Homo sapiens: one gene and its partners. The protein of the gene in region 4 interacts with the protein of the main gene of each other region in a pairwise test. Each region holds a gene or a part of one and is shown on either strand. Other genes may lie near its edges.

What was found.
Region 1: the proteins of TXLNB (region 4) and LPXN interact in binary tests that used the Homo sapiens proteins (3 or more experiments, as listed by UniProt).
Region 2: the proteins of TXLNB (region 4) and CEP19 interact in binary tests that used the Homo sapiens proteins (3 or more experiments, as listed by UniProt).
Region 3: the proteins of TXLNB (region 4) and TCL1A interact in binary tests that used the Homo sapiens proteins (3 or more experiments, as listed by UniProt).

The regions. Positions count from the first base shown.
Region 1 is NC_000011.10:58,572,845-58,580,398, forward strand, and holds the start of LPXN (leupaxin), read right to left. Parts: upstream 3,013-7,554; 5' UTR 2,929-3,012; coding exon 2,916-2,928; intron 1-2,915. Other genes in the region: E3 ubiquitin-protein ligase ZFP91, read left to right, coding at 6,438-6,778. UniProt on the Homo sapiens protein: Transcriptional coactivator for androgen receptor (AR) and serum response factor (SRF). Contributes to the regulation of cell adhesion, spreading and cell migration and acts as a negative regulator in integrin-mediated cell adhesion events.
Region 2 is NC_000003.12:196,705,748-196,709,255, forward strand, and holds the end of CEP19 (centrosomal protein of 19 kDa), read right to left. Parts: intron 2,981-3,508; 5' UTR 2,911-2,980; coding exon 2,781-2,910; intron 2,166-2,780; coding exon 1,804-2,165; 3' UTR 530-1,803; downstream 1-529. UniProt on the Homo sapiens protein: Required for ciliation. Recruits the RABL2B GTPase to the ciliary base to initiate ciliation.
Region 3 is NC_000014.9:95,711,107-95,719,010, forward strand, and holds the start of TCL1A (T-cell leukemia/lymphoma protein 1A), read right to left. Parts: upstream 3,020-7,904; 5' UTR 2,961-3,019; coding exon 2,841-2,960; intron 1,669-2,840; exon of another isoform or gene 1,445-1,668; intron 1,291-1,444; coding exon 1,114-1,290; intron 697-1,113; coding exon 649-696; 3' UTR 643-648; intron 1-642. UniProt on the Homo sapiens protein: Enhances the phosphorylation and activation of AKT1, AKT2 and AKT3. Promotes nuclear translocation of AKT1. Enhances cell proliferation, stabilizes mitochondrial membrane potential and promotes cell survival.
Region 4 is NC_000006.12:139,288,965-139,295,859, forward strand, and holds the start of TXLNB (beta-taxilin), read right to left. Parts: upstream 3,035-6,895; 5' UTR 2,957-3,034; intron 1-2,956. UniProt on the Homo sapiens protein: Promotes motor nerve regeneration. May be involved in intracellular vesicle traffic.

The DNA of each region.
Region 1 (7,554 bases), on a different chromosome or scaffold from region 4:
GAAGAACTGATTGTTTCAACTGGTTGATGGGTATATCAGAATTCATTAAACTATTTTCTCTACTTTTGCATACTTAAATTTCTTTATAATAGAAGTTTTTTAAAAAGAAGGACAAATAGGCCGGGCATGGTGGCTCATGCCTGTAAATCCCAGCACTTTGAGAGGCCGAGGCGGGCGGATCGCCTGAGGTTGGGAGTTCGAGACCAGCCTGACCAACATGGAGAAAACCCGTCTCTACTAAAAACACAAAATTAGCCAGGCATGGCGGCACATGTCTGCAATCCCAGCTACTCAGGAAGGCTGAGGCAGGCGAAACGCTTGAACCTGGGAAGCAGAGGTTGCGGTGAGCCGAGACCGTGCCATTGCACTCCAGCCTGGGCAACAAGAGCAAAACTCCGTCTCAAAAAAAAAAAAAAAGAAAAGAAAAGAAAGAAAAAGAAAAGAAAACTAAGGTAGAAAAAGAAAGAAAACTTTTTGCCTCAGATTTTTATTAGCCAGACCCCACACCAAATTTGAGAATTTTGAATTTTTATTCTACATCTTTCAATTATGCTAGAGCCCCTTTCTTTTCTATTTTCTAAGCTTTGCTCTAACTAGAAGCCAAAGATCCTCCTGAGCTCAAAATAAAAAGCCATTTACAATAAAGATTATAAGAGAGAAGAAACCATACCACAAAGAGTAGGAAGTTGCCCTCAGAAGCACCAGCTAACCAAAGTTATCAAAACCCTTCTTTCTGGGTCATGAGTTATAGGCTTTTCTCTTCCTGTTTCATATGAGTGTGCATATCACCAACACTGTGAGGTTATTATGCCTTTTGCCAGATTTTGTAATTTGAAGATGACTAATTTCAGTATGACAAATATGGGATTCCTGGAGAGTGGGGGCGGGGGAAGTGGGGACTAGACTGAAGACTCCATAATTCTTCTCTGTAGTCTTTTACTGTGGAGATGAAATAATATCAATATTAACATGAAAGGAGTAAAGTGAGGTCTCTTGGGAGTCTCTGAGGGTTGCATGGATTTCATTCGGAGGCAGAATCTGCTCCTGGTTCCTCTTTATCTATCATGCCTAATGCCTACGTAATGAGGGTTTAGGTAAAACCTTCTGGGTGTATACAAGCTGCTAGCCTCTGAGGCACCACTGCAGACAGGAAATATTTGCTCACTTGAGCCAACCTGTCCTCGATGCCATTTCTCTGCCAGCAGGAAGAAAGATCCACACCAAGTCTCAAGGGTAGTTACTGGGCTGATGACAATTTGAAGAAACTGTTGAAGTGTAGCCATCAACAGCCTGTGGAGACGTAGCCAACTGGATAATCTGCACAAATATTAGCTTCCAGGCTACTTGGTACTTTCTGTATTTCCAGACAAGATTTACCTAACATTTAGCCTGCTCAGGAGATGCAAAACAATATAAGTTTCTGTTAAATCTGGGTTACTTCATTGGACAGACACCAGAACCAATAAACTTCTAAAATAGGAGAGCACCTTGTTGCTTAGTTTTGGTGTCAGGTGTTCCCGACAGTGACATTGAAAAAGTTATTTTGTTTTTCTTAGTTTTCTCATCTGAAAAAGAAGTGGATAACACCTATTTCAGAGGGTTGCTGCAGACACTAAAATGATTAACATATGTAAAAATGTCTAGTTTTTGCTTGATTTACTAAATAAGTATTAGTTTCCTTTTGAATTATTTGCCATGAAAGCCTTTCGGTGTCCCCTCCATCCCCCCCAAAAAAAAGAAAGAGAAAAAGAAAAAAGGCCCTAGCACTACTAGAACTCAAGCAGAAATTCACATTCTCCCAGCACTCACGTAGGATAAGAAATAGAATTCTACCCCAAGTCCAAAAAAGAGTCTGGCCCAATATCAAAATAGACTTTACCTCCAAAGCAGTTTGATATTTATTAAACACTACCTTTTTCTCTTCATTAACATCTCTTGCCTCCTGGTAATTTGCCCTTTACTTTTCCTCTGTTTCTCCAGCTTTGAAATCACACGCCATTTTTTTTAAGACAATGTAACAATGTGCAAGATATTTTTTGTTGTTGTTTTTTGCACTTTTGACATACCCTATCCCCAAACACACCCCAAACCAGGACACTGTGGAATTAATACAGTTTGGAAATTGGGTATAGTTTAGTGACTCAGTGTTAGTTAAGATGCTGGCAACAGATGTTGGCAAAGGCTATGGAATGAGTCCCAAGAATGACAAACCTTACATTACTCCAAAGGTTTGAAATCCAGGATTTCTCTGGTTAATATGGTTAATAGTTCCACTGCTGGTTTTAATTGTCTTAGAGTGGAAGGAGGTGTCATATTTTCAGGCCCTAGTAATCTCTTCCTTCAGAATTCTTCTGAATAAAAAGCTTAGCAACAAAATCACTAGAGTTAGAGTGCTATGCCTTCTTGATTTAATACTAAAACATGGAACAAATGAAACCACTCTGGCCTTTTTCCAACCTCTACAGATCCCTCATTCTTATACTTCTAGTCCGTCTTTTCTTCCTCATAACACCCCAATTCCCTTTTTGCTCTTTCTTTTCCTCCTCAAATCATATCTCTGCATTGTCTCGCTATGTGGCCACCCTTGATCTCCAGTGACCTCCAAAGGGCAAAACGCCCATAACAAGACAACAACTGCAGTAACAATCCAGTCCAAAAGTATTTGCCAAGAGTTTATTCCGCGGTTAGCACCAAACTCTCCATCTATTTTGCCACTGCAAACAGTGAACCCATAGTTCCCCAAAACAATCATAGTTCCTCATGCTTCACTCTTGGCAGGGCTGAGGACAGGAAAGAAGTGAAAATAAAATCTTCCATTACTACCCTCAGTCTAGCCAGAAGTATACCCCACCACACAAGGAGATGGCAGCCAAGTCTTCACTCCCTCAGAGTTTCTCCTCAGGCTCCTCACTCACCTAACTCTTCCATTGTCCTACATCCAAGATGCTCTTGTCTCACAGGCCGTGAGGAACAGCTTTGGCATGTGCTGAAGAAGAGGACCGCAAAGGAACTGGATGAGACAGCATAAGGCAGCCTCTATAAACCTTTTTGGTTCCTGTATTTGCTTAGCACTTCCTCTCTTTTGATTTGGTGAGCTTTTTTTTTTTTTTCATAGGTTACACAGTTTTAAAAATGTGACTGACATAGAAAGGTAGATAGTAAGATTTGCATTATGGCAGTGCATTGGCCAGGGTGATAAAGATTCAAAATTAATTTTGCAAAATTTGAGGACCTACTCTGTGCCAGGATTCATCTTGGATTCATGGGAATGGCAGACTTATACTTGCGTTTTTTCCAAGTGTAGGTACCCCACTCTGAGCATCTTTCTTTTTTCTTTTTTTTTTTTCTGTGAAGCTGGGAGACACAGAGGCATAGTCTCCTTCTTAAAATTTGCATCAGAGTTGACCAGCATCCATTTCATTTTGTTGTCTTATTTATTCAGAAATTATGGTTATCTGCTTTCCTGCATGGAACGTAAATCCTTAAAAGTAGGGCAGAAGTGGATTCATGCTTGGATTCTCAGGGCCTGGTTTACTCAGTGGTCCCAAAAGCAAACATCTATAGGGTGGTCACAAAGAAGGAAGCCAGGTTTGACACCAGATGTTAAACTGTGTGCATCTCAATTAAGCATAATCCCTGCCTAGATACACTGCCTTATAGCAATTTCTTTGGAAAGTAACACTGAGGTTAACTCTTCACCTTTTTTACCACTGTGATTTATTCACCTTGAATTAAACATTTACAAAAGGCCTACTATAAAAAAGCAATACGTAAGGAACTATAATTATGGCCCTGTGAAATAGATTTTTTCCCCCTTTTTACCAATGGTGAAATAGGTTCATGTAATAGCAACTTGCTAAGATAATTAATTGGTAGCTTTGCTACTTACTATAATTGCAAAGTCTGGGATCTTTCCTCTACAACACCGTAGCCTTCTTTACTTTTTTTAAGACAAGCTCTCTGTCACCCAGGCTGGCGTGCAAAGGTACTATCATAGTTCAGTGTAACCTCCAACTCGAACTCCTGAACTCAAGCGATTTGCCCTTCTCAGCTTCTGGAGTAGCTGGGACCAGAGGTGCATCCCATCACGCCACCAGGTTAGCTTAAAAGCTTTATTTTTATTTTTTATGTAGAGGGTGGTCTCCCTATGTTGCCCAGGCTGGTCTGGAAGTTCTGGGCTCAAGGGATCCTCCCACTTTGGCATCCAAAAGCGCTGGGATTCCGGGGGTGAGCTACCACATCCAGCCCACAGTGGCTTTTTTTTTTTAGGGAATAATTCATTCTCCATTCCACTGTCTGTACATTTTTTTTTGAAAGGAGATTCCTCCTCTGTATTACTTTGAGCATCCATTGGATGTCAGCACTGTTCCTTCCAAAAGTCTGCTCACTACAAACTCAATCTTAAAAAATTTCCATTGACACTATGCCAATCGATTATTACAACTGAAAATGACATTAGCCCTATGAAAATGGAAAATACTCAGTAGAGAATATAAAACATTTGTCTAATATGAAGTGGTATCTGAGTCAAAGTACTGGAAGGAAAAATGTACTTCAGCACTTGTCTACAGTTTAACTGAATGATTAATGTGAAATTTAAAATTGGATCCCCAGATCTTGTTTCCAGCTTCTTTCTTTTGGGACTTTTAGCCCTGGATGCCTTATTTTCCAGGGGTAAAGGATGTTCTTGCAAATCGTTCCTTGATTGTAATGGATGAAAAGAAAAAAGAAATGGGAGAGGCCCACTGCATCACCAACTGCAACGGAAATTCCCTTTGATGAATCAGGAAGACAAATTAATGTCATACGCTAGCGTGCAGAAAAGTAACCTCTGATAAAGTTGCTATTGTATAAACCGCAGAAGCAGATGGCTTCCGGCCGCAGAGCTTAAGAGACCCTTCAGCTTCTCGGTGTAGGTCACCAGTCATGTCACGCTCACAACCCTTTCGCCTCCCTCTAGGTCAGGCACCGCATCCAAGTTAAGCAACCGACGCCGGCTCCTTGGTGTCCCAACAAGGTCTAGTAGAAAAGCAACTTTATAATTCGTTTCACAGATTTGATTAAGAGCCAACTGAGTAGTGGGCCTTGTGCTAGGGCTCCGAGGGCCCAAGGACCCCATGGAACCAGATTTAGTCGCTGACCTCTAGGAGCTCACAGGTGAGTGACTCACACACCGGAAGACGAGATCAATAATGTAGACATGAACGCTGGCTAGCCAGTCCCAGAGGAGGTGTCATCTGACCAAACCAAGGCAAGTCTGGGCAGTTACGCAGACACCCCGAGAAAGGTACGCCAACGCCCAGATAAAAAGTAAGAAAAAGTAGGAAAAACCCTCCCATCAGACCAGCAATTGGCTCGACGCTTGAGCCCGGATGTACGGCACGCGTCGCGACCTAACCCGGAAACACTGCCTCCCGAAAAAAAGGTAAACTCTAGACTGCGGAAAGTAAACTACCTTTCCCGTCGTGACTCAGTTAGAACCTCCCGGCATCCTCTCCACCTCTGGTTTCCCATCTATTTTTCCTAAAGCCTAGGCGAAATAAGACTTCATCTCCCAGAATGCCCTTGGTTAAGTTAACGGTGCGCATGCGCCAAGAGGCGGGCCCTCGTTGCCCCCACAACCCCGCCTCCGTTTTGCCGCCGCCATTTTTTCAGAGACTTTCATCCGGCAACCGACGGGGCTTTTTTTCTTAAAGGAGAAGCGACAGCTCAAAATACTACCCCCTTCTCCGCGCAAGATCTGGCGGCGCTGGGGACAGAAAGGCCAAAGACAGGAAAGTGGGGTAGGGTGGAGGCGGAAGAACGCCCAGGCTACTTCTGCGGCCTAAAGAAGAATAGAAAGAGCCCTTGTGGTATCAGTGGCTCCTCAGGGAGGCAGGTGCGCGCGCAGCCAGTCTAGGGTTTGCGTGAGGCGGGGAAAGAGGTGCGATTTCTTCTCACCCGCCTCCCTCGCGAGACCTGCCCCTCGCACTGCCCCTAGCGCGCGTTGAAGTCTGGAGGGGGGAAAAAGGTCACTTTGGGATTGTCGCGAGACACAGCCGTTTAACGGTGAGAACGGGTGCGCGGGGAAGGAAACCTCGCGCGCTCCCCTTTTAGCCGTTTCCTGATTGGCTGAAGGAAGGGGTGGGGGAGGGAACCTGGGGCGCCGCTGCGTGTAAGACTGCGAGGGGCGGGGTGAGGAGGCTTGTCCTCTTTTCCGATTGGCCCGCTGAGCGTCTGTGGCGCGCGCGCGCGCGCCGCCAGCGGTAGCGGACCTTGAGTGGCAGGGGGTGGGGGGGGCGCCCTCGGAGCCGGGCGGAGGGGAGGGGGGAAAGAGGAGCGCAGGGTGAGAGTGAGCCGCAGGCTTCGGGAGGCGAGGGGGCGGGGGGAGCAGCGCCGAGGCCGCCGCCTCCGCCTCCGCCGCCTAGGACTAGGGGGTGGGGGACGGACAAGCCCCGATGCCGGGGGAGACGGAAGAGCCGAGACCCCCGGAGCAGCAGGACCAGGAAGGGGGAGAGGCGGCCAAGGCGGCTCCGGAGGAGCCCCAACAACGGCCCCCTGAGGCGGTCGCGGCGGCGCCTGCAGGGACCACTAGCAGCCGCGTGCTGAGGGGAGGTCGGGACCGAGGCCGGGCCGCTGCGGCCGCCGCCGCCGCAGCTGTGTCCCGCCGGAGGAAGGCCGAGTATCCCCGCCGGCGGAGGAGCAGCCCCAGCGCCAGGCCTCCCGACGTCCCCGGGCAGCAGCCCCAGGCCGCGAAGTCCCCGTCTCCAGTTCAGGGCAAGAAGAGTCCGCGACTCCTGTGAGTAACAGTCTTTCAGGCGGTGGGAAAGACCCCCCTCTGTCCGTACGCAACCCTCTCGGCTCCCGTAGCGCCTACTCCACGTGACATCCTGCCTGGTCTGCCCCCTGCCGGCTCCGCACGCCAGATGTCACACCGTTTCCCCGGGAGCCTTCGTGCCTCCTCTCTGCGCCACCCTCATCTCGCTCCTGTACCTTCGCTTGTCGGGCCGTTTCCCCACTCCCCGAAATCATCTTTTGATACACCCCTGCACTCGCTAGTGATCCACCTCCTCCCTGACACCCGCAGGCTCATCCCTCTTTCTGGCATCCGCACCCCCTTTGTCACCCTATCCCTTTCCTTTAGGCGGCTCTCCAGTATTACATCACATGCCCTTTAGGGAATACACAGCCCGATCATAGCCTTCAAAAATGATTCCCCCCCGCCTTCGCGTTAGCTCAAGAGCCAGATGTACTAGTGTGTTTATGTAGCTTTTTTTTTTTTTCACTTTTCTAAATTTTTCGCAACCCTTCTCATTCTTTTGAGAAATTTGCCACTTATTATGGTCAGGTTAAAAGCCCACTGCTACGATTTTAAGTATGGAGTCTTTCATATAAAATTATATGAGCATTCTTTAATGTTTGTTTTTACTAAGTAGCATATGTTTTATCTTTGTGTTTCGTGTTTTTAAATGTAGGAACTTCATCCTTGAAATTAGAATCATCTGAGAGGAATTCCTTTATTACCTAGACGTAATAGAGGAAACATGAACAGGTGGCCAGGAGCATTGTCTTAAA
Region 2 (3,508 bases), on a different chromosome or scaffold from region 4:
AAATTTTAAAATAAGTTACCTATAGCCAGGCACAGTGGCTCACATCTGTAATCCTAGCACTTTGGTAGGCTGAGGTGGGTGGATCACTTGAGCCCAGGAGTTCCAGACAAGCCTAGGCAACATGGTGAAACCCTGTCTCTACAAAAAATACAAAAATTAGCCAGGTGTGGTGGTGGGCACCTGTACTCACAGCTACTTGGGAGGCTGAGAGGGGAGGCTCACTTGAGCCCAGGAGGTTGAGGCTTTGGTGAGCTGTGATCATGCCACTGCACTCCAGCCTGGGTGACAGAGTGAGACCCTGTCTCAAATAAAAAATAAACTACCTATATCTATACAATAAAGAATAAAGGAATACTATGTAGATATGGAAAGATCTCTAATTCAGAAAATTATTTGGCTCCCTTTGGCTACTGTATGTATGAGATCTGACTATTTCAAAACTCTGGTGATATCACTACAAGAATGAGCTCCCTTTTAATGAAGTGCTTAATGGTAAGGAGAGTGGAAGTGAACAGGTAGAAACACTGAGTAATTATTTTCAGTTTTATTTAATAAACATCAATTTCCTTGTAGAAAACATAGAATTTCTACCAACTAAACAATATTGTAATAAGGATAAATGTATCAAATCACAGATAATGTTGTTAAACGAAGATGCTGTCTTGCAGATCCATTCATGAACAGGCCTAAACTGGCAGTGCCTATTGTTCATTTATTATGGGTGGATTTCCCATTTTACAAACAAACCTTTTATTTATGGGAAGAGGTTCAGCGTTTCGCAATGTCTTTAGTATGTATTTCCCGATACCGGAGGGGCAGAATTCCCCCTCTGTCCATCAAGTGACATCTGCTTGCAGCTGTAGGGAATTTTGCAGGGTACTCTTTTCCAGAGATAAATAATATAAAGATATAACACATAAGAGGTAATTCCCTGGTAACCATATATGTCCCCCAATCTTGTCTTGTCAAACTATAATTTGCTTATGGTTCCTCAAAAAAAAAATTGTTTCTTGTCCCTTTACTACTTCCCCTCTCCTTCTTTTCAGTTGCTCTTATCAGGAATCCTACACAAGCATCTACCTAAACACTACTATTTCAAGGGCCAGGCCACCTCCTATCTCTTTACTAAAGGACAAAGTCTTCCCTTACTATTCTACTCTACAGTAATATATGCTCTGGCCTTCTTTAGCCTTTATCATGCATTTGGCACTAATGTTTGTGTTGCTTAATACTGCTAATTAGCTTTTCACAGGTTTTGACATCTTCCAGTCAGATTGTAAGCTTTTTTTTTTTTTTTTTTTTGAGATGGAGTTTTGCTCATCGCCCAGGCTGGAGTACAATGGCGCGATCTCGGCTCACTGCAACCTCAGCCTCCCAGGTTCAAGCGAATCTCCTGCCTCAGCCTCCTGAGTAGCCGGGATTACAGGCACCCGCCACCACGCCTGGCTAATTTTTGTATTTTTAGTAGAGGCGAGGTTTCACCATGTTGGCTAGGCTGGTCTCGAACTCCTGACCTTAGGTGATCCACCCGCCTCAGCCTCCCAAAGTGCTGGGATTACAGGCGTGAGCCACCGCACCCGGCATGATTGTAAGCTCCTTAAAGGCAGATTCCTTTATTCTGTTTTTCCCATACTCCTCATGCACCTACATAGTAGATGCTTTAAATGTCCTGGTTTTGAAAAGTAACATGGTCAATCCCCTATAACCCAACATATTTAGTATTCTTTACAGCTTCTTCCAGAACCAGTCTGGTAATAAACATGGATATTCTGCTAGCCCAATGCATGTTTTGAGTGTTTGGTATCAGAACTCATCAGCTGACTCTGTGTCCCAGCCACAGGACTGCAGTTGATCGTCCTGTGGAAATTCAACCTCAATGTCATAAACAAAATTTGGATCATCCTTCTTCTTCTGATTTTTCTCAAAAAGTTCATCCATGATGCTCTTTCTTTTGGCAAGCTCCTTGTCATCTAGTTTGTTCAGGTCTTCCTCAGGATCAATGGTTGTTTCCCGTTGAATTTGTTCCATTGTTTCTGCCAGACTCTGCCCCGACAAGTAACCTCGTAAAAAACTGAATAGCTTCTCTAGCTGCCTCAGGGATACTTGTTCTAGGTAACTCTTGTGTCGCGGATTATTCTTTAATTGTTCAGCAGCTCTGGTGCAATCTGGGAGAGAGAAGAAAACTATATACCACATACGTACCACGTACATCATATACGCCATAAACTACTGCAACAGCCAAAACAGAACAAAAACTCTGAACCCTGAAAATATTATCTCCATTATAGTCAAGTAGCTAAATGGCTTGATTGGAATGAATTACTTTGTAGAACCATTCCTTTATATTGAGCTTTCAGTGTGGTGGGAGAAGGACAGATACAGTTTTGACTTCTTTAACTTAAAAATCACTTTGTAGAGATATTAAACACTTTCAACTGGAGAATATGTCTGAGAAGAAAAGTGATATTATAGCTTTTAGATAGCAGTAGTGGTATTAATAAAATATTAAGACTACAAATAAAAAACATTTGGAATGAGAGAAGGGAATTAATATTATTGAATAATGCTATATCATTTAACCTAGGCAGCAATCCCAAAAGGATTATTAATTATCAGATTGGAAAAAAACACTACAATTCCCTTTTATAGATTAGGAAACTGAAGCTCACTGAGAGTAAGTAATTCATCCAGTGTCACACATCCAGTCCCTGACAGAGTCATGATGTGAACCTGTATTTAGAGAATATTTAAGACAGGAGGCAAGATAAGACATGAGGTACCTGAAAACTTTGAAAAGTTTCGAACTGGCATAATGCGCTGGCGAATTTTCCCCTTGATTTCACTCTCATAGATTAAGATAATAGCTGGAGGCTGAAACCTAATCCCACATTTCTTGGCAGTGCACATCATTCCCATGTACATGTCCGGGTAAGTCAGAGGAAATCTGATGAATATGTGTAAGTTGCATAATGACTTCCTGCTAAAGGGAAAAAACAACTAGGTGTTGGATAAATGTCATTCATTCCCCTCGCCCCTTTGCCCCAGAAGATCTGGTTCTAGTCCGGCTCTGGCCACACACGCTCAGCCTGTGAAACTCATTTTTTTTAAAATTAAAATACGGACTGCTTCATGAATTTGTGTGTCATCCTTGCGCAGGGGCCATGCTGATCCTCTCTGTATCATTCCAATTGTGGGGTATGTGCGCGGGAACGACCACAAAGCTCAGTTATTTTGAGAACTGCCCTGAAAGTTCAGCTTGGCCCTGGGTTAGTTTCAACCTGTTGGATCCCTAAGATCTGGTTTTTTCAAGGATATAGACTTGTTCATATGTGAATCTGGGGATGCAATCCAGTTTGAACCTCTTAGTGTACTGCACTCTTACTGAAGATCGAATATGAACCCCTAAGTCAGCCCAATAGCTGACCTATAGGGTCTTTACTATTTATCAATTAAGAAAGGGCATATCGAGCATCCTCGGTATCAAGGTACTATGATAAGGTAAGTTTTT
Region 3 (7,904 bases), on a different chromosome or scaffold from region 4:
AATAGCGTATCTAATATCTGGCTCAGCTGATATAATCAAGCACCAGTGCTTATTTAATAAAGCAATGGTAAGGCCGGACGTGGTGGCTCATGCCTGTAATCCCAGCACTTTGGGAGGCCGAGGCGGGCAGATCATGAGGTCAGGAGATCGAGACCATCCTGGCTAACACGGTGAAACCCCGTCTCTACTAAAAAAAAAAAAAAAAAAAAAAAATTAGCCAGGTGTGGTGGCGGGCGCCTGTAGTCCCAGCTACTCCGAGGGCTGAGGCAGGAGAATGGTGTGAACCCGGGAGGCAGAGCTTGCAGTGAGCTGAGATTGCACCACTACACTCTAGCCTGGGCCACAGAGCCAGACTCATCTCAAAAAAAAAAAAAAGCAATGGTAAATGAAAGTGCCAGCTGAAACTTGTGAAGTACTTTATAGATATGAGCAGCTGCGATAAAGGGGGCTGCCTACAAAGCCCTTGGCTCCCGAAGTGGTAAGGGAGACATGAGTGCCTCCAGGAAGCCTCTCCCATCCCTAGGGACCCTCAGATGGCAGCAGTCGGGGAGGGGTTAGCACTGCCTTCATGGAGAAGGGGTGGTCTTTCTTTCTGATACAGCCACTGTGGACTAAGAGGGGTCAGGCTCCAGTGGAGCTCACCATACATCAGTCATCTGGCAGCAGCTCGAGAAGCATGTCCTCCACGCCGTCAATCTGAGAGGCAGAGAGAGAGAGAAGGCATTGATCGGCCAGAGCCCTCCACTCCCTCCATTCCTCACTCCTGCGCCTTCCCCTAGCTGGAAACAGCAGGTAGGAACCCAGGTGTGAGGATTTCAGGGGCTCTTGGAGACTGCCCCTCCTCCCACCAGCCTTCAGCCTGTGACTGCCCACCAGAGATGTCTTCCTGCGGCTAGCTGGTGGCTGGGAGGAAGTGGAGGTAGGGTTCTGTTAGAGACCTCAGAGGATCTATCTTCTCTCTGGTAAAGTCCTTTAGAAATCTGCACTTGTACATTTCCCCCATTTTTTAATGCTTTTGGGACTGGGATGGAGGGAAGATAAACCACTAAGGCCAGACATGGAGGAGGGCAAACCCAAGATCACCCGATGGACCTCTGGGAGAAAGACACTCACCTTGATGTGGTACACTAAGCGCCAGAAACTGGAGTCTGAGGATCGGTATCGTCCATCAGGGTAGAGCTGCCACATGATAGGCAGCAGGCTTGGGCCTATCTGGGTGGGGGTCATAGGCCTCCCCAGGACGACGTCTTCCCGACGCAAGAGCACCCGTAACTGTAACCTATCCTTTATCTGAGGAGAAGAAAAGGACAGGGCATACTTTCAGGTTCCGCTTGCCAGGGCTTCTCCAGGCGCAGAAAACCGGAATCCCTCCTGCCAGCCATCCACCCATCTGGGCAGGGGTCCGAGTGTGAAATGATGGTCATCACTGTTCCCTGAAGCTCACTTCCTTAGGCCATGCATGCTCCTCTCAGGGACTCTGGCTGGGCCAGGACCACCAGCACACACACGTGTCTAGCCACCCAGACAGGGCCATGAAAGGCACACTTTTTTCTGGCGGGTTGCAGCGGCTCACACTTGTAATTCCAGTGCTTTGGAAGGCAGAGGCAGGAGGATCGCTTGAGGCCAGGAGTTTAAGACCAGCCTGGGTCACAGAGCGAGACCCTGTATCTACAGGAAAAAAAAAAAACAACAAAGAAAGAAAGAGAGAAAAAGAATACTGGCCTTTTCAATGATGTGAGGCAAAATCTGTCCCACAGTTTGCTAGTGGGTTATTTTTTGTGGAGCATGTATCATGATTTTATGAAAAACTGTCTGGTTCGTGGTTTTGGTGTCACGTTGAAGAAGAGATTTCTCAGAGATTTAAAAAAAGAAATCCACTGAATCTTCAAATTATTTCTTCAAATTTTGATTTTAAAAAAGTAAGTATTTAACTTGATTTTTAAAGTAAAAACATATTTAAAAAATTGAAATGCCAATAAAAATGCAGATTTTGTGGTGGTTAAGAGCCTAGAATTCCAACCCCATTACCTACTAGCAATCTTACCTCGGACAAATGTACATTTTTGTGCCTCAGTTTCCCATCTGTAGAGACACAGTCAACACTCAATAATTTTTGATTGCTACTGGACATACGTGTTCTAATATATTTTTTAATTTTTATGCTTTCTTCAGTGTATGTTTGGAGAGAGTTTGAACATTTTTTGACTCTTTTTCATTGAGTAAATCCAAATACTTGTAAAAGACTTATCTATTTCTTTAACAAAAACTTAACATGGATTAAGGACCCATCTTAAGGCATCACACATTAAAAAAGTCAATATTGATTCAATACCGGCGCTTATACTACGACATCACTTGTTAAATTTGTTTTCTAAATAAAGCCCAGAGGTAGTGGAAAATACTTCACACTCTAGGCCAGTGTTTGCTATGCCTGGTTGACCCTAAACTGTTGAGGGTTCTTTTTAAAAATACAGATTTCTGGGACCCACCTGAGATGATTCCGATAATCGGCCATATGGATGAGTCACTTAGAGATACCCATTTTTAAGGATTAGGACCCCGAAGCCCAGAAAATGCCTGCTGTAGTCAACATTATAGTCACACTCCACAGGCACTGGGTCCACCCCTTTGACCGACATTCCTTTGCGGTTTTCCCACCCTTCTTCCCTGCCTGGAGAACTCCTATTCATCCTCCAGAGCCCGGCTCAAAGTGGCTTCATCTGTGGGGATCCTCCCTGCCCCATAGTGAGTGCTCCTTGAGTCCTCGCCCTTCCTAGGGCATCCCAAGCTCCCAGGGGCTGCCCCTGCTGCCTCGCCATCCGCTCCAAAGCTGGCTGTACCTCGATGGTTAAGGGCAGCCAGGCGTGCTGCTTCTCGTCCAAATACACGAACTTCTCCCAGGCCCACAGGCGGTCCGGGTGGTCGGTGACTGCCTCCCCGAGTGTCGGGCACTCGGCCATGGCGTCCTCGGGCCGCCTAAGAAGCAAGAGCCAGAGCCTCTCAAGGCCGCTCGCTGGTCCCTGGGATGTGGGGCCGACCCTTTATATCCGGGCAGCATGCGGCCGCCACCAAGCGGCGGGGCGGGAGGACGGCCTTGGGGCGGGACCCCGGGTCGGGAGAACGACCTTGGGGCGGGGCGTAAGGCAGGATGGGGCGGGGTTTGTGGGGGTCTTGGTGGCAAGTGAGGGTCCCGCGCAGGCGCTACGTCCCGGCCTGACTTGCTCCCTGGAACGGTGGCAGCTCCTGGGAACGCAGACCCGGCCCCAGCTGGCCCGCGCCTTCCTCGAGGCCCCGGCCAGCAGCGACACCGACCGCCGCCCTCTGCTGCTGCTGGAGAGGCACCGGGGTGACCTTGGCCCTTTCTTCTTCTGGAAGACCCCCCCGCTTCCCTCGGCTGCCGGACCGGGACTCTGGGCCTCTGCTGGGAACTCACAGTCGACACCAGGATGCCCAGAGCCAGGACCCACTCCTCATCTTATGGGATCAGAAGAGACCCGCGCGGGCCTGAGTTAGGCCTGGGCTTTCCCGGGTTCCCTGGATCTCCACCAGCCTGTGCCTTTGAGTGTCAGAGTACGTTTTTTGGCAAAGGACAACTCCTGACGCTCCCTCTCCCTCTTCCATACACAAAGCATGCGTTTTCCACAGGTCTGATGTGCTGTGGACATCTAATAGCTATTACAAAATGGAGAATCATGGGTTTTTGCCCTTGGGCTTTGAGTTTACTAGTGAAAGCATAGTTCGAAATGAATACTTAAAAAGAAATCCCTCCTTCCACCCTAAGATCAATGGATTTGAAAAGTGCCTGGTTTATATGATCAAAACCACCCCTCTGTAAATTACAAGCAATAAGGAAAACAATTTCACTTTATTTTGCAGTAACGCATTCCCACTAAGGCAATTAAGAAAGTCATGCACAATGAAAAACATGTGAAACCAGCTCCAGCCTGGTTCAAACATCACCATGGGATGGAGTTTGGTGTCTCATCTTCCAGCTCTTTCCCAGTTCTCTGACCAGGCACTAAGAACATAATTTGTGATCCTTTGAAATATCACCAAAGTGGAAATTAAGAGATCTGATGAGGACATCTGATTCACCTGGCAGCTGGGTATCTGCCTCTTTGCCTATCCAGAGAGCCTAATTCCCAAGAAGGGGCTGAGAGGGCCTAAGGTAGTCGAGACATAATGGGATTTACCAGGAACACAACATAGAAGAGAAAAGCCAAGGGAAGTTGGGGGTGGAGTGAGGGCCCTTGAGCTCAGCAAACCTCTTTTCCACTGTAGCCCTTAGTGGTGTTAATATTTAATATGCAAACTTAAAGGTTTCATGCTGATTTTCCTGTGAATGGCTCTTGACTCCAGACCTAGATAGCCACAGAGCAAGATGACAAGCTCGCTAATAAGCTCTGTTGGGGAGGTCTCAGCCCAGGCCAGAGCTGTGAAGTGAGAAATAAGTCCAGTTTAAATAGTGCTGCTGGGATGGACTTTTGTGGCCAGGGAAGGGGTACCCAGGAGCCAGTGTGGCCACTGACCCAGCCTCATCAATGGCCCTAGGATCCAGAATGCCACAAACAATGGAGCAAGAATCAGATCTGTGTGTCTGGGTAAGCAGAATGTTCTGAGAATATAATTCCTTTTTCCTTCTTTTGTAAGAACAATTTATTTCTTCAGTTTTGCATGAGGGCTTCTTAATATTGAGCAAGAATATACATCATTATTGCGTGAGATTTAGAAAATTATTTGAGAGAGGGTTCCAATAAATGAAAATGAATTAAGGATGTCTGTGGAGTTCATTGGGCAACTTATAGAGCCCTTGAGCTTTTTTAAGTGAACATTCCACAAGAGGGGAAACAGTAGCTATTGCATAGTCTCAGAGCTGTCTCTGAGCCTCCGTGGCATGTTATCTGCCCCATCTAAGGGTTATAAAGGCCATAAGCCTAGCTTTAGAATTTTATGTTCCTTTCCAAGTCTTTGTTAGTCTGATTTCCCTGAGGATAAGCAAATGGATGTTTCACACAGAAAGCTACAGGAAGCAATCATTTTGACAGAATCCTTAATGGATGCGTTCATGTCCTGATTTAGATCTAGTTTTGCCTTTACCACGATCACCTGTGAACTTGACAAATCCTTTGCAACTTGGCCTCAGTGCCATAGTTTTGTAATGAATGGGGCAAAATACCTGCTCTCTAAGCTTGTTTCTAACTCAGTAGGCCCCAATCCTCCTATAACATTGCCTAGTGGGAGGAGGGAATAGTTAAGAAAAGAGATGGACAAAATATATGATGTTAGTTCAGGAATGCCTACAGTTTTTGGTACAGTGGCTGTAGATCAAGGACCCCAGTGGAATTCATGGGAGCCATTCTTCTTGTTTGGGTTCCAAAGAAGGGGTTGAGGAGTAGTCAAGGCCATCAGGATGACCTTGACTCAAAGTGTTGTCCCTGGACCAGCTACAGTAGCATCACCTGGAGCTCGTAAGAATGACAGAATCTGGAGCCTCCCCCAAGACTACTGAGTCAGAATCTGTATTGGAACAAGACCCCCAGGTGATTCACGGGCATGGTAAATGTTGGGCTATATGGAGGGAGGGTCAAGAGGGAGAGATAGGGGGTGTCTGATTCAACACACCAGTGCCCTCCAGATTTCTCCAACTATGACACAGGACTTATATCGGTGTTTGTGTATCATTTACTTCCAGGCTATCTTATTTTCTGCCAAAATCACCTCTAATATATAGAGTGTTTTCCTCTTAAAAGAAAATCCTAGTAACCAAGGTCATCCTCACCAACCCTGGGGTCCTTGATTGTCAATGATTATAGCAAGCTGGAAAGAGCCTATTTAGAGGCTACTTAGGTGTTTAGGCCTTTGGGCCCTATGATGACTGAGCCTAAACCACTAAGAATCACCTGGGAAGCTTTAATGAAACACCTGCGCCTGGATCCCACTCCAAACCAATTACATCAGAATCTCCGAGATTGAGGCTTGAGAAAAGTAGGTGATGCTAACACGTAGGCAGGGTTAAGTACAATTTCTCTAAGATCTGAGTGACTGTTTTTGACGTGTGCACAGATTTATAAATCTAAATAACTACGAAAATGTCAAAGCTATTCTTTCTACCATCAATTCTCATTGTAAACTTCACCCCAACTCCATATTTTACTTCTTTCCCTTTGCCCTACTTTGCTGCTTCCAATCCTTCGTGGTCAGGGATCCATAGCCCTAAGTTTATTGGAATCATAAGGGTCTGAGATCTTGCTAATGTGTAAAACACAGAATCTGTGATATATATGTAGCTATTAAGGCATCCATGCCTGGAGTGTTTTGTTTGTTTGTTTGTTTTTTGAGACAGAGTTTCCCTCTTGTTGCCCAGGCTGGAATGCAATGGTGTGATCTTGGCTCACTGCGACCTCCACCTCCTGGGTTCAAGCGATTCTCCTGCTTCTGCCTCCCGAGTAGCTGGGATTACAGGTATGCGCCACCACGCCTGTCTAATTTTGTATTTTTAGTAGAAATGGGGTTTCTTCATGTTGGTCAGGCTGGTCTTGAACTCCTGACCTCAGGTGATCCTCCCACCTCGGCCTTCCAAAGTGCTGGGATTACAGGCATGAGCCACCGTGCCCAGCCTGTTTTTTTTTTTGTTTTTTTTTTTTTTTTTTTAGTTCCTAGGTCTGGGCCATAGTTGAAATAATTAAGGCTGCTGATCAAGTGAGTTCAGGGTACAAAAGATGTTGTAGCCTTTACTCATAAGGGATGAAATGGTATCTCTAAATTAATGGAGAATCTGAGACAAGGATATTTCAAGTAGAAATTAGGGACTGATCCTACTCTGCCCACTACATAGCTATCATCTCTCTCTTTAAAATTAACAGTTCTAAGGAACTTAAAGCTTCTCCAACTTTAAGGTGTATATGGAGATTTTATTTAAATACAGATTCTAATATGGTAGGGTTGAGGCGATTCTCAAGATTCTGAATTTGTAACATATTCATATCCTCGGAGTTGATACAGGTACTAATGGTCTATAAATCACCTCTGGGTGGCAAGGACCTATACTAACCCCCATGCTACCCTTGATACCCACACAAAACACAAATGAAAAACACAACTCACAACCCCTACTCAAAATGCAGCGAATAGTTGATTCTGCCAAGCTAGCGAGTGACCAAGATGTGATAGAATTGCACTGGACACTTTGAGCTACAACTGTGGTTGCCATTTGCCAGAGGCAAGTTAAAATTGACCTACATTTGTACTGGAAACATTTCTCAATCCTGGGATTACTCCACACCTTGGGTGTTACTGTCCTACTGATGCTATGATGCCTACAGCTTTGTTTTTGTTTTTCTGTTTTGTTCAAAAATGTTTTAGCTATTCAGACCTTTTGTGGTTCCATATGAATTTTAGGATTATTTTTTCTGTTAATGTGAAAGTGTTGTTGGAATTTTGGTAGGGATTGCGTTGAATATGTAGGTTGCTTTGAGTGGGATGAACATTTTAATAATTTTAATTCCTTCAATCTATGAACATGAGATATTGTTCCATTCGTTTGTGTCTTCTTCAGTTTCTGTCATGGGTATTTTGTAGTTTTGCGTGTTCAGATCTTTCACCTCATTGCTTACATTTATTCCTAAGTATTTTATTATTTTTTGTAGCTATTGTGAATGGGATTTTTAAAATTTCTTTTTCACATAGCTCATTATTAGTGTATAGAAATGTTACTGATTTTTGTATGTTGGTTTTTGTATCCTGCAGTTTTACTGAATTCATTTATCAGTTCGAACAGCTTTTGGATGGAATCTTTAGGAGTTTTCTATACATACAAGATCATGTCCTCTACAAACCGAGACAATTTAACTTCTTCCTTTTCATTTGGATGCCTTTTCTTTCTTTTACCTGTTGCTCTGATTAGG
Region 4 (6,895 bases):
CAATGCTACATTTCAATGGTAAGGATATCCCCCAAGTGAATACCAACTAATTATAGTCTCTAACGTAGAGAAAGGCAATGTCCTTTCACAAACCATTGATGTTACTAAGGGAGGAGACCACCCCTCATATCGTCTTATGCCCAATTTCTGCCTCCAAAGAAGAAGTAAAAACTAAAACGCAGACATGAAATCCACAGGCAGACAGCCTGGTGCCGCGCCCTGAGCCTGGTAGTTAAAAATTGACCCCTGACCTAATAGGTTATGTTATCTATAGATTACAGACATTGTATAGAAAAGCACTGTGAAAATCCCTATCCTGTTTTGTTTCGATCTAATTACCGGTGCATGCAGCCCCCAGTCACGTACCCCCTGCTTGCTCAATCAATCACAACCCTCTCACGTGCACGCACTTAGAGTTGTGAGCCCTTAAAAGGGACAAGAAATGCTCACTCAGGGAGCTCGGCTCTTGAGACAGGAGTCTTGCTGACGCTCCCGGCCGATTAAACTGCTTCCTTCTTTAACTGGGTGTCTGAAGGGTTTTGTCTGCGGCTTGTCCTGCTGCATTACAATTATTAAAGTAGGGACAGTGGAAAGTTGTTTTTCCAAATCAAGTCACACTGCTGGCATATTTTTGGTTTTGATCTTCAGTTTTCAGTAGCATTCCTTATTATTCACATTAAGAAAGTAATTCATGCTATTTTTCTTTGTGGCCATATTTGTCATTTTGCTTACACTAGTCAGTTTGTGTTACCATTTTCCTGTATAATTCTATGTAGATTAACAATCACTGGGGGTACATGACTGTATATATTTAAAATGTTTAAATATAAAGTGGTATTAGTTTTCTTTCAAAGTTAAAATATTTAATAGAAGAGCCATTGAATTTATTTAAATAACTCATAAGAATAACATCTCTAAGCTCTATTTGATCCATAAATCAATATTTTGCTTAGTGTGAATATTTTGATGTAAATGCATTATTACACTGGATAGAGGAGACATTTCTCACTTTTCTGGCATTTTCTTTTTCAGATAAGCAACACGAATGCTTTTTTTGAGGCTTAAACTGGCATCATTTTTAGATTAAGACAGGGAATGAGGGAAGGTATAAATAAATAGACAAAGTAGTATGGAAACACGGGCCAGGTGCTGTGGCTCATGTCTGTAATCCCAGCACTTTAGGAAGCCGAGGCGGGTGGATCCTTGAGGCCAGGAGACCAGCCTGGCCAACATGGTGAAACCCTGTCTCTACTAAAAATACAAAAATTAGCCAGGTGTGGTGGCGGGCACCGGTAGTCCCAGCTACTTGGGAGGCTGAGGTATGAGAATTGCTTGAACTTGGGAGGCGGAGGCTGTAGTGAGCCAAGATCGTGCCACTGCACTCCAGCCTGGGTGACAGAGCAAGACTTCGTCTCAAAAACTAAACAAAACAAAAGCATGATGATACTTATAACAACAATTCCTTAAATTTCTATAATACTCTTTTATTCCAATATATAAACCAATTTTTTAAAAGAGAAAAACAGATTACAACTTTCTCTTCTAAGTCAGGAAGCTCTAGAAAAACTTAATGATTTTTAAGAAGTAGCAATGTTTCATAAACAAGGAGGAGACCAACTCGAGAAATAATTCAGCAATAATAAGGGCCCTTAGGAAAGGGTGAGAGATGGTACTGAGTCAGAGATTCCAGGGTTTCTGACTATTACCACTTCTAGAGTTGCAATAGATTTGGTTTAGGCCTTTAAGTTATGGTGCATTTTATTTGTAAATAATATTTAACAGTGATGCTGCTAAATAGCAGCATAAAAATGTGGCAAGATCCTCATAATTCACAGGTTTTGCTGTTGTGGTAACATGAAAGTGAAAACAAAAGCATACTGTTCTACAACTGCACAGCTTCCTTTTCCTGTTCTCAGGGCAGTAGATGTCAATTGAATGCTCAGACACCAACAAGAACAGAAAATTCAACACACAGATGTTGCCACTGACTTGTGATGCTCACCAAACACTCATAACTTAGAGGAAGTACTTTTTTTCTTTCACTGGTTTGAATTCACCAACTTGATTATCAAATAATGCAGCAGTTTCATTATTTTCATCACTGGGATTTCTTTTCCTGACCTCACTTGTTGATTGCACTCATCTATATATAACTTAGGCCTCCCCTGAACACGGAGAAAGACACACGGCACCTGCTGTCCAGCCAGAAGTTATTTTAAGCTATTCTAAAATGAGTCATGCCGTTTAGCACTTCATCCTTGAAAATCAAGAGAATCGTTTTTCAGTCAAATTGAAAACAGTAAACATTTAGTGGCTTAAATCCATACATGGGTTTTAAAGTCGGGGAGACTATCTTAGGATGAAATAAAATCTCAAGTAAAATGAACTTCAAAATAATTAATTTAAGATAAGCTGTCCATAGGAGTTTTACTTCGGTTAGTCTAAATGCAAGTGGCTGTTTGTATTTGATTTATTCTTCATGAGATGCCACAATCATTGATTTTTTAAATTCTTAATTCCATGGCTATTCTTTAAACTCCTGTTCCACATTTACTTTAAAACAGAACAGTCATTATAAAGCCCAGGACAATTCAATTCCCAAAAGTAGCCTCAAGACAAGTTAACAAGAGGGAAAAAAACAAAGTCAGAGAACTTTGTTACTTTTCAATCATCCATTTTATATTATGTGGCAAAGAAATTATTTCTAACTTTTATCTTATATAAACTTTATTGCCTTATTTTCCCCTCCCCAGGGAGAGAACTTTTCACTTGTGTTGGCTATTCCAGATGACTATCACAGACACATCCCTCCCTAAGCAACACATTTTATTTATAAATACAACAATGAAAAGTTCTCCAACAGTTCACTGGCAATCTCAAAGTTGCAAGTTTCGAACACCACAAACCGCACCCTATACCTTCTCACAGGGCTTGGGGGAGTGTTTGTCATACTTACCAGAAGGCAAGAAGCTAAGCAAGAAGAGAGAGGAGAGGAAGGAGGCAGGAAAAAGCAAGTCAGAGCTGCAGCAACAGCAGGAGAGGGCGGGCTGGCTGTGTTCTTACAAGGGAGAGAGAAACCCAATACACACACACACACATACACACGTGCACGCACGCGCGCGCACACACACACACACACACACACGCCACAGGCACTGATGGAGGCAGCAGTCTGGAGGAGGTGGGGGTAGGGAAAGGAACATCATATGACACAGCAAGGGGAAAATACACCCAAGCTTCCCTAGCTGTTGCCAGGGGAAATACCTTAGCAGAGAGAAGCAGCTGGAAGATCTCATTAGACTCTCCATGTTTTGTTTGTCCTTTCGGAAATTTAAACTCTGAGTATATTACCCCCGTTGCAAATGCAGTCTTTCACCATTGTTGTCCTTTTTGGGTAGAGATCAGTTTTTCTTACTTCTTGGGTTATCTCCAGTGTGGTGGAAGATTCATCTTCTTTTTCTTCTTCTTCTTGCACTAGCTTAATTAGTGTCAGGTTTCTTACAGGAATCATGGAAAAAGAAAAACAATGGCATAAGAACAGGGAGGTGGTGGAACCATTTTAATTCTGATGTCATTGTTTGGTTTGTTTGCAAAGTTTGAAATAAACATGTAGATGGTGATTTTGGAGCTGAACTGAGTATAATCTTCATGCACGTGGTAATTGGTGTGACCTTGGAGCACAGTCTTTCCCAGGTAACTCTTCCCATCTCAAACAAACCCTCAGGGAAGCAGTCTGCTTTTTCTTCCTTAGTTGGTGGCTTTCCCACATTTTGTAAATCCTCAACATGCTCCTTGATCCTCCTCAGAAAAAGAAATTCCTTCTGATTCACCATAAAATGCCTGTCTATTAATTTACATCCATTTGCCTTTTATTTTTCTTTCTGGAGCTTGTGTTCCCATACTTCCAAAGCAGATTCCTCCATCGGTTTCTGCTCTGGGGACAGGCTAGGCATAGTGGCATCCCTTGTGGGAGGCAGAATAATGCCACCCAAAAGATCTCCACGTCCTACTCCCTGGAACCTGTGAATATGTTTCTTTACATGACAAAAGAGACTTTGCAGATGTGAGGAAGGATCCTGAGGTAGGGAGGTTATCTTGAACTACTGGGTGGGTTCAATGTAATCATAAGGGTATTTATTTATTTATTTATTGAGACAGAGTCTCGCTCTGTCACTCAGGCTGGAGTGCAGTGGTGCAATCTCAGCTCACTGCAACCTCCCGGGTTCAAGCGATTCTCCTCCCTCAGCCTCCCAAGTAGCTGGGATTACAGGCGCCTGCCACCACATCCAGCTAATTTTTGTATTTTTAGTAGAGACGGGGTTTCGCTGTGTTGGCTAGGCTGGTCTCGAACTCCTGACCTCATGATCCGCCCACCTCGGCCTCCCAAAGTGCTGGGATTATAAGCGTGAGCCATTGCACTCAGCCTCATAAGGGTCTTTATAAATGAGGGAGGAAGGCAGTAGGATTGGAGGCAGAAAAGGAGATTTGATGACCTCAGCATAGGTCAGGAAGCTTCTAGAAGCTGGGAAAGGCAAGGAAACAGATTATACTCTAGAGCCTCCAGAGGGATGCAATCCTGCGACATTGATCTTAGATCAAAGAAATTCGTTTTGGATTTCCGACCTCCAGAAATATAAAATAGCAAACTTATGTTATTTTTAAGCTGCTAAATTTGTGATAAGATGTTATGGCAACAAAAGGAAATGAAAACATCCCACCCCCAGTTTTGTCCTACTTATTCTCTGAGTTTAGGGGAGGCATAAGTTATATATAGATGAGTGCACCCAACAAGCAGAAGTCAGGATAAAGAAATTCCAGTGTTGAAGACAATGAAGCTGTTCACTATATTATTTGATAATTAAGTTAGTGAATTAAAATTGATGAAAGAGAAAAGCACTTTCTTCTAAATTAATGAATACTTGGTGAGTGCCACAAATTGGGTGGCATTCCATCCTGGATTGTAGCAAACTGACCCGATCACATCTCTTAGTAAATATAAACAAGTCAGTGCTTTTCAAATTTAAATAATGTATAGACTCACTTAACAGAATAATTTAAATAATGTGGAAATTATTTGAAGGATTATATTATTATTTGAACCTACATGTACTAAAATGAAAATAGGATAAATTCCTTATGCTTACAGTAGTTACATAAATTTTAAAATGTATACATTTTAAAGCCTACAAAATCAATAAATGCGACTCAAATTAATAACACTACTTTTATGTGACAGATATTGTTTTGCTGAACTTAAATTGCTGCTTGCAACATGAATACTCTATTGACTGCTGGGTTTTTTGAGTTTCTGGTACTCTTCTACAATGTGGTTTGGGAATTTCCTCAACACTTGATTCATTCAAATTATTACATAGTTTTTATTCATATGGCCTGCTATGATTTCATGGGGCTCTCATTTGATACGGCTGCATCATTTACTGCTTGCTATGGTCTGAATGTTTGTGTCCCCCCAAAATTCATGTGTTGAAATCATAAACCCCCAGGTGATGGTATGAGGAGGTGGGGCCTTTGGGAAGTGATTAGATTATGAGGGTAGAGCTTTTATGAATGGGATTAGTGTTCTCATAAAAAAGGTCTGAAAGAAACCCCTTACCCCTCTGCCATGTGAGGGTGCAGTGAGAAGAAGGCTTTGTACGAGGAAGTCACCAGACACAGAATTTGCCTGCACCTTGATCTTAGACTTTCCAGCCTACAGAACTATGAGAAATAAATTTCCATTGTTGGCCCGGCACGCTGGCTCACGGCTGTAATACCAGCACGTTGGGAGGCCAAGGCAGGTGGATCACTTGAGGTCAGGAGTTCAAGATCAGCCTGGCCATCATGGTGAAACTCCATCTCTACTAAAATACAGAAATTAGCTGGATGTGGTGGCGCATGCTTGTAATCCCAGCTACTGGGGAGGCTGGGGCAGGAGAATCATTTGAACCCAGGAGACAGAGGTTGCAGTGAGCCGAGATTGTGCCACTGCACTCCAGCCTGGGCGACAGAGCAAGACTCTGTCTCAAAAAAAAAAAAATTCCATTGTTTATTAGTCACTCAGTTTATGTTATTTTGTTATAGCAGCCTGAATAGATGAAAGCCCTATTCTTTCTCATTGTCCTGCAATTATTAAAGTAGTGCTAATTGGCCCTAACTTGAATAGATACACACATGATAGTGGAGGTATCAAAATGACACTTACACAGTGGCTACCCAGATCCAAAACAGGCATATGCATTTTCAAGTATAATTGAAAATAATACAAACATGCAAAACTGTGACTCCCAAGAATTTATCTGTGGCCTGATAGGGGCCCAAAAAACTGGGATAAGTTAATAAAGACAGCAAATTAATAGAGCTCAGTGTTTTATTGTCAAATCAACGTTAAAAGAACACAAATTACACGTCTAAGGCTTTGAACTTTTGTAAAGAATACACTTATTTTTTGAAAATACATCTAACTGTTTACGCAAATATCACAGGAAAATAATTTGAAAATTCAAATGATGCTAAAAAGCTTAACCCAAGAAACAATAACTCCTTGTTCTTCCACCTTCCTCCAACCTTGTGATGCTTTCTAGAGGTAATAACATAAAACTGTTGTAGATATTTTTTGGGGGGGGGATTTACTTTATCATTTTTAAATAAAATGCCTTGATTTTATTTACAACTCACCAATTTTTGACATTATTTATTGTCTTCTCATAATGATAGATGAAGATTTTCATTGTTTACACTCCCCTTTTTCTCCTCTCTTCATTTTCCCCACAAAATTATATCTCAATGTTTAATTCATATCCTATATTGTCTTTATTGAAATAATGTTTACTGTTAAACCAGGTAGAGCATTGTGATTATAGTTCTATTCATATGCAACTTTCTGTTTTTCCTGGAG